2 separate regions of the Homo sapiens genome follow, and region 2 is linked to region 1. Evidence: fine-mapped expression QTL. A gene starts in region 1. The other region holds a variant in brackets. All regions are shown on one strand. Distances are between the middles of the regions.

Region 1 (4,382 bases):
AAGGCTCTCTGTTTAATGAATCCAAAATTGGCCACATGTTGTTGAGAAACAAAATGGGCAATAGATGGTGTGAAAAACAACTTAGCATAGACTTAAATTTGATGATCACCAGAAATTTGATATTCATGAATCCTCAAGCATTCTAGTTTATAACCAGTCCACTCATCCTGTTTGCTTTAGAAATAACAGGAAATTTTTCTAAATCTCTTTAAAAACAGAATTGGGCAAAAAAAAAAAAATCTTGTTCTTCAGTCCAATACTCCATAATATAAACCAAGAAACAGATAAGTGAGTTGAAACGCTCATTTGATATATGATACTCCAACCAGGAAAGACAGTTAGAAATACATTTAGGTCTTTTATTAACATTTAACTTAAAGAATGCAAAACAGAGAAGCATAAGAAGATTTAAGGCTAATGCACTGTCGGTTTTTAAAATTTTGCAGATGAACCTCTGAATAACTTGCAAAGAGTATTTACAATTAACCTTTAGGGTAAGAAAATTCAAATTTCAAAAGCCATCAGTAAGATGATAAATCTTCATTAAACGATGAATTCACTTCTTCACATCGATTCACACTGAGTAGCTATTATGGCGCAGGTTGTAAACTGGGTCTATTTGTTCAAGTACAGAGAAATGGAAATACAGCAGAAAACACGTAAACAATATGGGACTCTCAATCTTCTTGCTATAAATGGAGGTACATCATCTTATGTTACTGTAAATAGCAGCTATTCAAATGCCACAGTTGTGCTAAGTCTACCAACTCGGTTTAATATCCCTTTCCTATTTTTATGTTACCATTAATGTTAAGTTGGTCAAATATTTTTCAATAGCCAAAGGGGAAAAACTTTCTTTAATTCAAGAATGTATAGTGTATGTAACGTGAATTGAAGAGACCTTTCCTCCATCTATGTGTAGAAAAAATTGTTTGCTTTCACAGTTCAAGTTAAAATGGTCAAGTTCGATTCATCCAGCATAGATTAGAGTCTGTTTTACTCACTGCTCTATCTTCACTGATTAGAAATGTTCCTGGCACATAGTATATATAACTGATGAATGAATGAATTACTCCTATGCTCTATGGCTCATTTTATAAGAATATACCCAAGAAATTTTTACTTTGATTCCTTAATGCTTTTAAACTTGAAGAAAATCCCCAGTGTTTACATCAGTCAGCTGCTTGTGGAAAGCAATCATTCCACATCTGTAAACAAGAGCATGTGCAAGGTGTACAGTTATGTTAAGACAACTTGGGTGTCATCAGCTACCTCACATATTTCTTGAAATCCCACAGCTAGAGAAGCTAATTGTAAAACACCATGAGGACTCAATTAAGCCTACATCCACATGCTGAGAATTCTTCTTTGTAAACTAATTACTTCTCCACCGAAATCTGTATCAAGGCAAATACCATTTACAAGTAACATTCTGAGAAGAACCAGAAAATAACAGTCGTACACAAATCGACTTGGGGAAGCTATGATAGTAAGTTGCCCCATGAACCTGTTGTCTTTCTCTACCGGTGGACTGAATTCAATTTCTATTTAAAGGGACACTGCTTTTCTTGCGGATGAAAAAAAAAAAAAAGAGTTTGGAGAAAATCCCTTTTTAAAAACGTTCAAAGCAAGCTATCTGCTTGGAATTGTCAAAACAATATTTGCTGAAAAACTGGTCATCAGACCCTTCCGAATCTGGAGCAGGGCCACAGGGCATGATTTGGGGGTATCAGCTTCAGCCCTGGGTGCCAAGTTTGAGATCCCATATGGGAAGCAGAAGGTGAAAGAAGTGACAGCATGGCCCCAGGCCAGTATGCTGGCAGCTTGGGGGAACGAGGGGCCACAGTGGGCTCTCAACTTTGTCAGCCTCCCCCACCCCCCCGCGCTGTGGTCCACGCGCCTCCTGGCTCCGGCCGGCAAGCCCCCAGGCCACCGGGGGGCTCGGGGGCCAGCGGCGGCCAGTCAGAGGTCCCGGAAGCGGCCCTCCCGGCCCAGCGGCATGGCCGGGATGCTGAGGAACGCCGGGCTGGTTGGGGGCTCTCCGCCCCTCCCCCCGGCGGGCCCGGCGCTTCCAACGGCGGCGCGGCGGCTCCCTCAGCCAGCGCCCGCCGCGCCCTGCCCGCCCGGCCGGGCCGACCCTCGCCACGCCCCGCGCACCCGGGGCGGACCCCGGCGGGCGGGCCAGCGGCTCCGGGGCCAGCGCTCCTTAGGAGAGCCCCCGGCGCGGGCGTGCGGCCTACTCGGGGTTACATAACGGGGCCAGGCCCCTCGGAGCTGGAGGGGGACCGCAGGGCCCGCGCCCGCGGAGTGGGGGTGCAGCCGCTCACCTGCCGTAAATGCCCTCGGTGATCCGGTTCCGCTTTAGGGGGCGGCGGAGCTTACTGCAGTCGGCGTTCCGCCGCTTCATCCTCCCGCTGGGGGGCCGGGTGCCCGCGCCGCCGCCGCCGTCTCTCACCTCAGCTGCCGCCGCCGCTGGCCCGCCCCGCGTCGGGCCTGGACTCTACCCCTGAGGCCGGTCACACAGACATGGAGCCAGCACCCGGGGGGAGGGGGTAGCACGGGGAGGGGGGGCTCGGAGCCTCCTCCGCCTTCGGAAACAAAGAAATGACAATTCCGGGGCCCGCCCGCCCAGCACCAGCCAGCCGCCTGCCCCGCCTCCTCGGCTCCGACGGACGGCCCGGGAGGCCAATAGAAGCCACCGGTAAACCGCTGTCGGCCAATCCCAGGGCCCGCTGAGGCAAAACTGACTCTAGAACCCGCCCCTTTGAAGGACGGAAGAATGCGCCAATCATTATAGTGTCTGGGTCCCCGGCTGAGCCTATCAGAAAAGATTTAAATAGAGGCTTATAAATAGGCCCTATAAATATAACATCCTATATTACGCCTTGTTGCGAAGGTATGCTTTATTATTATTGGGTTGCGTTTCATTGTATTGTAATCCCTACTAGAGCATACCGTACGGCATGGCATTGTAGGCTCTCGTCTAGCAATGTATGAAATCGGAAGGCCCGGGTTTGCGGCATGTGCGGTGTCTGCGCTGACGTGCGCTTCAGCCAGTCGCGTCATTATGTAAGGGAGCATCCCAGGAACAGCGCCGGGGACCCTTCTGCGGATGCTGGAGAGCTCGGCCAGGCCGACCGCGTCAGCGCGCACCGGGGGTACGAATGACAAAGCAAACCCCACACGCACACAGACACACACCCTGCCAGCTTCCCGCGACGTGGTGACAGCGCGCCGGCCAATCGGAGGTGGCGGCCCCGCCCCGGGTTACGCCACGGGGCGGAGCCGTGGGGGCGCGCGACGTAGCGCAGAGATGCCCGGGGCGTGTGCGGCGGTGCGGCCCGGGCTCCACGTCCACAGGCTGGGCAGCGCTGTGGGCCCCGCGGGCGCCGAGTCCGCAGGACCCGCGAGGGCACTACCGCGAAGCATCGGCCTCCGGGCCGGGCCGGGCCGGACCGGGAGCCTGCTCGGCGGGTCCGGGCTCCTGCAAGGCGGGGACGCGGGGCCGGCGACCCTTCACGCTTCGTACTCATTGAGCGCCGATTTTATGCCAGGCACCGTGCTGGGTAATTTGCGTGTATTTGCTCATTTACTCCTTATAACTCCCCTGCCACGTACGTATGGCAAAGTAACACTTAGAAAAGTCCGCATGGTGTTTTTTTTTAAGAGAAATAAAAAGAATGTTTATCATTAGAGAAAACTGGGGAAAATGTAGGAAAGTGGCCGAAAAGGAAAAAACACCAATGAGTCTCATCACATTAACACAAATACAGTTGACATTTTATTGTATTTGCTTGTTTTCCAATTTTCCCCTATGGATGATAATGTTACTATTGCTATTAAATAGAATAGTGGTCATACTAGAATAGTAGTCATACTAGAATAGTAGTCATACTGTTTTTAACATAAGCATTTTTACATGTTTTAATGCAGCTTTTATAAATATTTCTGAAAATATTGCAGAATGTCCTATCCAGTAGCTTTATCAGTGTAATCCCTCAACGACAATGGGGCAGTTAGTCTTCCAGTGCATTTTTAAAACTTCCCAGGAAGGGCTGGGCGCGGTGGCTCACGCCTGTAATCCCAGCACTTTGGGAGGCCGAGGCGGGTAGATCACGAGGTCAGGAGATCGGAGACCATCCTGGATAACATGGTGAAACCCCATCTCTACTAAAAATACAAAAAATTAGCTGGGCATGGTGGCGGGCACCTGTAGTCCCAGCTACTCGAGAGGCTGAGGCAGGAGAGCGAGACTTTGTCTCAAAAAAAAAAAAAAAAAAAAAACTTCCCAGGAAGTAGATGCCATTTTGTTTTGTCCTGGGTTTCACAGAACTCTCTCTGGCCTGTAATCACCCCTCCCTTAATCAACATCTACCCCAGGG
Region 2 (4,391 bases), 480 kb before region 1:
CAAAAAAAAAAAAAAAAGAAAGAAAGAGATGTCACTGGAATAGTCTTTTTGAATTTGCAAGGGACTAGACTGCAGATTATACACTCAGATATGCCATCTGACCTTAAGCCCTAAGTGTTGTTTGGTGGCCAAAAAGACACTGGCCAAATGATTCAACACTCACAGAGTGTCTGTGGCACTTCAGGGATGGCAAGACAGAATCACATAGGATCCTGCCCTGAAGGAGTTTACTCACTAGTGAGAGGGACAGACATGTATATGGATAGCTGCAACAGCAGCATAGTGGTGAGGGAGAGAGAGGTTAGTCAAGACCTTGAAGGTGGAGAGAATTTCAATATAGACAGAAGCCAAGGGACTCAAGGCCTTATGAGGGCTGGTACTGTAGACTGAATGTTGTGTTCTCTCCCACATTCATATGTTGAAGCCTATGGCCCACTGTAATGGTATTTGGAGGTAGAGCCTTTGGGAGGTAATTAGGTCATGAGGCTAGAGCCCTCATGAATGGGATTAGTGCCCGTATAAAAAGAGGAGACACGGAATCTCTTTGTGCTCTCAGCCATCTCAACAAGAAGATGTCTTTCTGCAAACCAGGAAAAGAGCCCTCACCAGCCATCAGATCTGCTGGCACCTTGAACTTGGACTTCCCAGCCTCCAGGACTGTGAGTTATAAATGTTTGTTGGTTAAGCCACCCAGTCAATGTTGTTCTGTTACAACAGCCTGAACTAAGGCAGTTGGTGTCAGCAAAACAATGGGACATATAGGCATGTAACCTTTCAGAGAGCTGCCAACAGTCCAATAAAGCTGAAACTTGGTGGGGGAGTGGAAGGAGTGAGAGTGAATATAGAGGTTTCAGAGACACAGGACATAAGATGGGCAAGGAGGACAAAAGTCTCTTCTATTTTTTAAATATAATTGTTGGGGCAAGGCACAGCGGCTCACGCCTGTAATCCCAGCACTTTGGGAGGCCGAGGCCAGCAGATCACCTGAGGTCAGGAGTTTGAGACCAGCCTGTTCAACATGGTGAGACCCCGTTTCTACTAAAAATACAAAAAATTAGCTGGGCGTAATGGCGTGCACCTGTGATCCCAGCTACTTCGGAGGCTGAGGCAGGAGAATGGCTTGAACCTGGGAGGCAGAAGTTGCAGTGAGCCGAGATCATGCCATTGCACTCTAGCTTGGGCAACAAGAGCAAAACTCTGCCTCAGAAAGAAAAAATATATATATAATTTTTGTCATTAATACAAGTAATACAAGTTCATTTTAAGAAGTTTGGAAAATCCAGAATAGTATAAAGAAGGAAAGCAAACTCAATTGTTATTTTCTTTCCAGAACTATTATTTTGGTGCATTTTCTTCAATGTATTTTGTTCCTAGTCGAACTCATATTGTGCAATTGGGTAGGCTTTGTTTGTTCTATTTAGCGCAATATAATGAGCCTTTCCCCATCTCATTAAAAAAGGACCTTAAAGCAGGAAGAGAGGTCATTTAGTCCACCTCTCTTCTAATGCAAGAATCCCGATTCAACATTTCTGATGTTTGACTTTGTCGGCACATGTCCCATAACAAGAATCTCATTCATGAATAGGTCCCAGTCCATTCTATTGTTGGCTAAGTCCAGTGATCACAGAGCTCTTCCGTTCATCTTAGTTGTGCTTCTCTATAACGATCCATCCGAGAAGACAGATTTTCTTTTTTTTTTTTTAGACAGAGTCTTGCTCTGTCACCCAGGCTGGAGTGCAGTGGCGTGATCTCGGCTCACTGCAAGCTCTGCCTCCCGGGTTCATGCCATTCTCCTGCCTCAGCCTCCTGAGTAGCTGGGACTATGGGCGCCCGCCCCCACACCTGGCTAATTTTTTGTATTTTTAGTAGAGATGGGGTTTCACCGTGTTAGCCAGGATGGTCTCGATCTCCTGACCTCGTGATCCGCCCGCCTCGGCCTCCCAAAGTGCTGAGATTACAGGCGTGAGCCACTGCCACCGGCCCAAGAAGACAGATTTTCA[C/A]ATGCATCAAGAATTAAAGAATCTCAGGGAAAAGGAGGGGGAGGTCCTTGAGGAAGACTGACCTGGAGGTCCTCATGGAGATAAAGACCTGCAATGACTTCACGGAGGGTTATAGCTGCTGTGCCAGGAATCCTTGGCCTCTAAGCCAAGAAAGGGAGTCTTTTTTTTTTTTTTTTTAGGTTTCAGAAATTTTTGCTTTTCTCATATCATGTGTCCCAAAGTTGAATTTGTCGAATGTTTTCAAGCAGAAAATGGCATGATCAGAGCTGTCCTTGATAGCTAATACCTTAGCTGTCACTTACTGAGGGTTTATTGTGTATAGACACAATGCTAGGGACTTTACATATATTATTTTATTTAGTCCTGGCAGCTCTATGAGGTAGGGGTGTTCTTCCCATTTCACAGATGATGGAACACAGGCCCCAAAAGGGGAAGTCACGTGCCCACACTCATACAAATAGTAACTGAGCAGTACCTGCTGCATCATATAAAGGACAGGATTCAAATTCCCCCTGACATGACACGAACTAGCCATGTGACATTGGGCAAATGTCTAGAGTTCTCTGGTCTTTTCTCCCCTATTTGTAAAATAACAGGGGTAGCCTGATAAAACAGTTTAGAGTGATAGCTGAAAGCATAGAGTCAGGGCCAGACTACAAAAGCTCTGCCGCTTCTGTGTGGCCTAGTTGAACAAGTGATCTAAGCTTGCTGCAAACCTGCTGCTAATGTTTGCCAGACCCAGGGCAGGAGTATAGAAGGGAAGCCCACATACCATATGGCTAAGTATTTAAGAGTTATAAATCAAGCTAACAAACTATTTTTTAAAAATATATGTTCTATCCTCCTACCTTGACAAATATACCTCCATAACAACCTAGAAAGCCAGGTTTTGAGTTGAGAATTCTTGGATTCCCTGGAGTTCCATGTGAGAATGTAGCAGAGCCAGCTCCCTTCTCTTCTCATTCCTGTGTGCATTCCCCAGCCCACATGCTCAGCCTCTGTTCACACCCCTTGCAAACAGCCAGCTCTAAGCACAGGGGTGCACTCACTGGCAGGAAGTTTGCCCTTGGGAGGATGGAACCAGGGAAAGGGTTGGCACAGATGCTGAAAATGGACTTGGGCCATTTTGGCAGGGAATTCTGGAGTCCTGGGTATTGAGAGGGTGGTCTAGAAGGGGTGCACAGGCTCCAGGCGGGCATATCTCTTTGGACCCAGGGAACTGTGAGGAGGGACACAGCTGGAGGAGGATTAGGGTGCAGCCCTCTAAAGAGTAGGGCCTAGGACAAGGACCCCATCTGACATATCTAAAAAAGGGGCCGGGTACGGTGGCTTATGCCTGTAATCCCAGCACTTTGGGAGGCCGAGGCAGGTGGATCACCTAAGGTCAGGAGTTCGAGACCAGCCTGACCAACATAGAGAAACCAACATGGAGAAACGTCTCTATTAAAAATACAAAATTAGCCGGGCATGGTGGTGCATGCCTGTAATCCCAGCTACTCGGGAGGCTGAGGCAGGAGAATCGCTTGAACCCGGAAGGTGGAGGTTGCGGTGAGCCGAGATTGCGCCATTGCACTCCAGCCTGACCAACAAGAGCGAAACTCTGTCTAAAACAAAAACAAAAACAAAAACAAAAACAAACTTTAAAAAGCTACTATCTTTCCATGCCTCAGTTTCCTTTATTTTATTATTATTTTTCCCTCTAAAAAAGGCATTCTGAATCAGTTCCTTTATTTAGAATGACCAACTCATCTGGGCTTGCCTGGAACTTTCCCTGTTTTAGCACTAAAAGTCTCAAGTCCTGGAAAAACCCTTCAGTCCCTGGTAAACCAGGAGAGTTGGTCACCTTCATTGCCTCATCTTTGCAATTAAGCTAATAATACCTCATAAGACTGTCATGAGAATTAAGTGAGTTAGTACATGTGGAGTGTTTAGACCAGTGGCTGCTGTGTGGTAAGCATTCTATGTGAGCTATTAACATTTAAAAGATTCCAGTCTAGGCCAGGTGTGCCTGGACTGGCTCATGCCTGTAACCCCACCACCTTGGGAGGCCAAGGCAGGAGGATCACTTAAGACCAGGAGTTCAAGACCAGCCTGGGCAAAGTGGTGAGACCCCATCTCTAAAAAATAATTTAAAATTAGCCAGGCATGGTGACACATACCTGTTGTCCCAGCTACTCAGAAGGCTGAGGCAGGAGGATCACTTGAGCCTGAGAGGTTGAAGCTGCAGTGAGCCATGTTCACACCACTGCACTCCAACCAGGGTGACAAAGTGAGAACCTGTCTCAAAACAACAAGAACAACAAAAAAGATAAAATGCTGCCAATAATTATAACATGCTATTTATTGACTATGAGGACCAACTGATTTCAAAGATAAAAAATGTGGGGGAAA

The links. PIP is the estimated chance that this variant, and not a neighbour inherited with it, causes the effect. A credible set is the group of variants that fine-mapping cannot tell apart.
Region 2: its variant is the best candidate, but not a certain one, in a credible set for the expression of MACO1 in lung (TOPMed, PIP 0.54).

What each region holds. Positions count from the first base shown.
Region 1 is chr1:25,429,124-25,433,505 of GRCh38, reverse strand. It overlaps MACO1 (macoilin 1), which reads right to left and starts at 2,609. Exons shown (of 11, transcript NM_018202.6): 1 at 2,328-2,609. The coding sequence starts at 2,407. It also overlaps a transcript of RHCE not described here. RefSeq lists silencers at 2,094-2,753, 3,144-3,583.
Region 2 is chr1:25,912,860-25,917,250 of GRCh38, reverse strand. No RefSeq gene overlaps it. Among named protein-coding and RNA genes, the nearest start is that of MIR3917, 8.6 kb to the right of the region's middle. The variant C/A (reference allele first, on the strand shown) is at 2,001.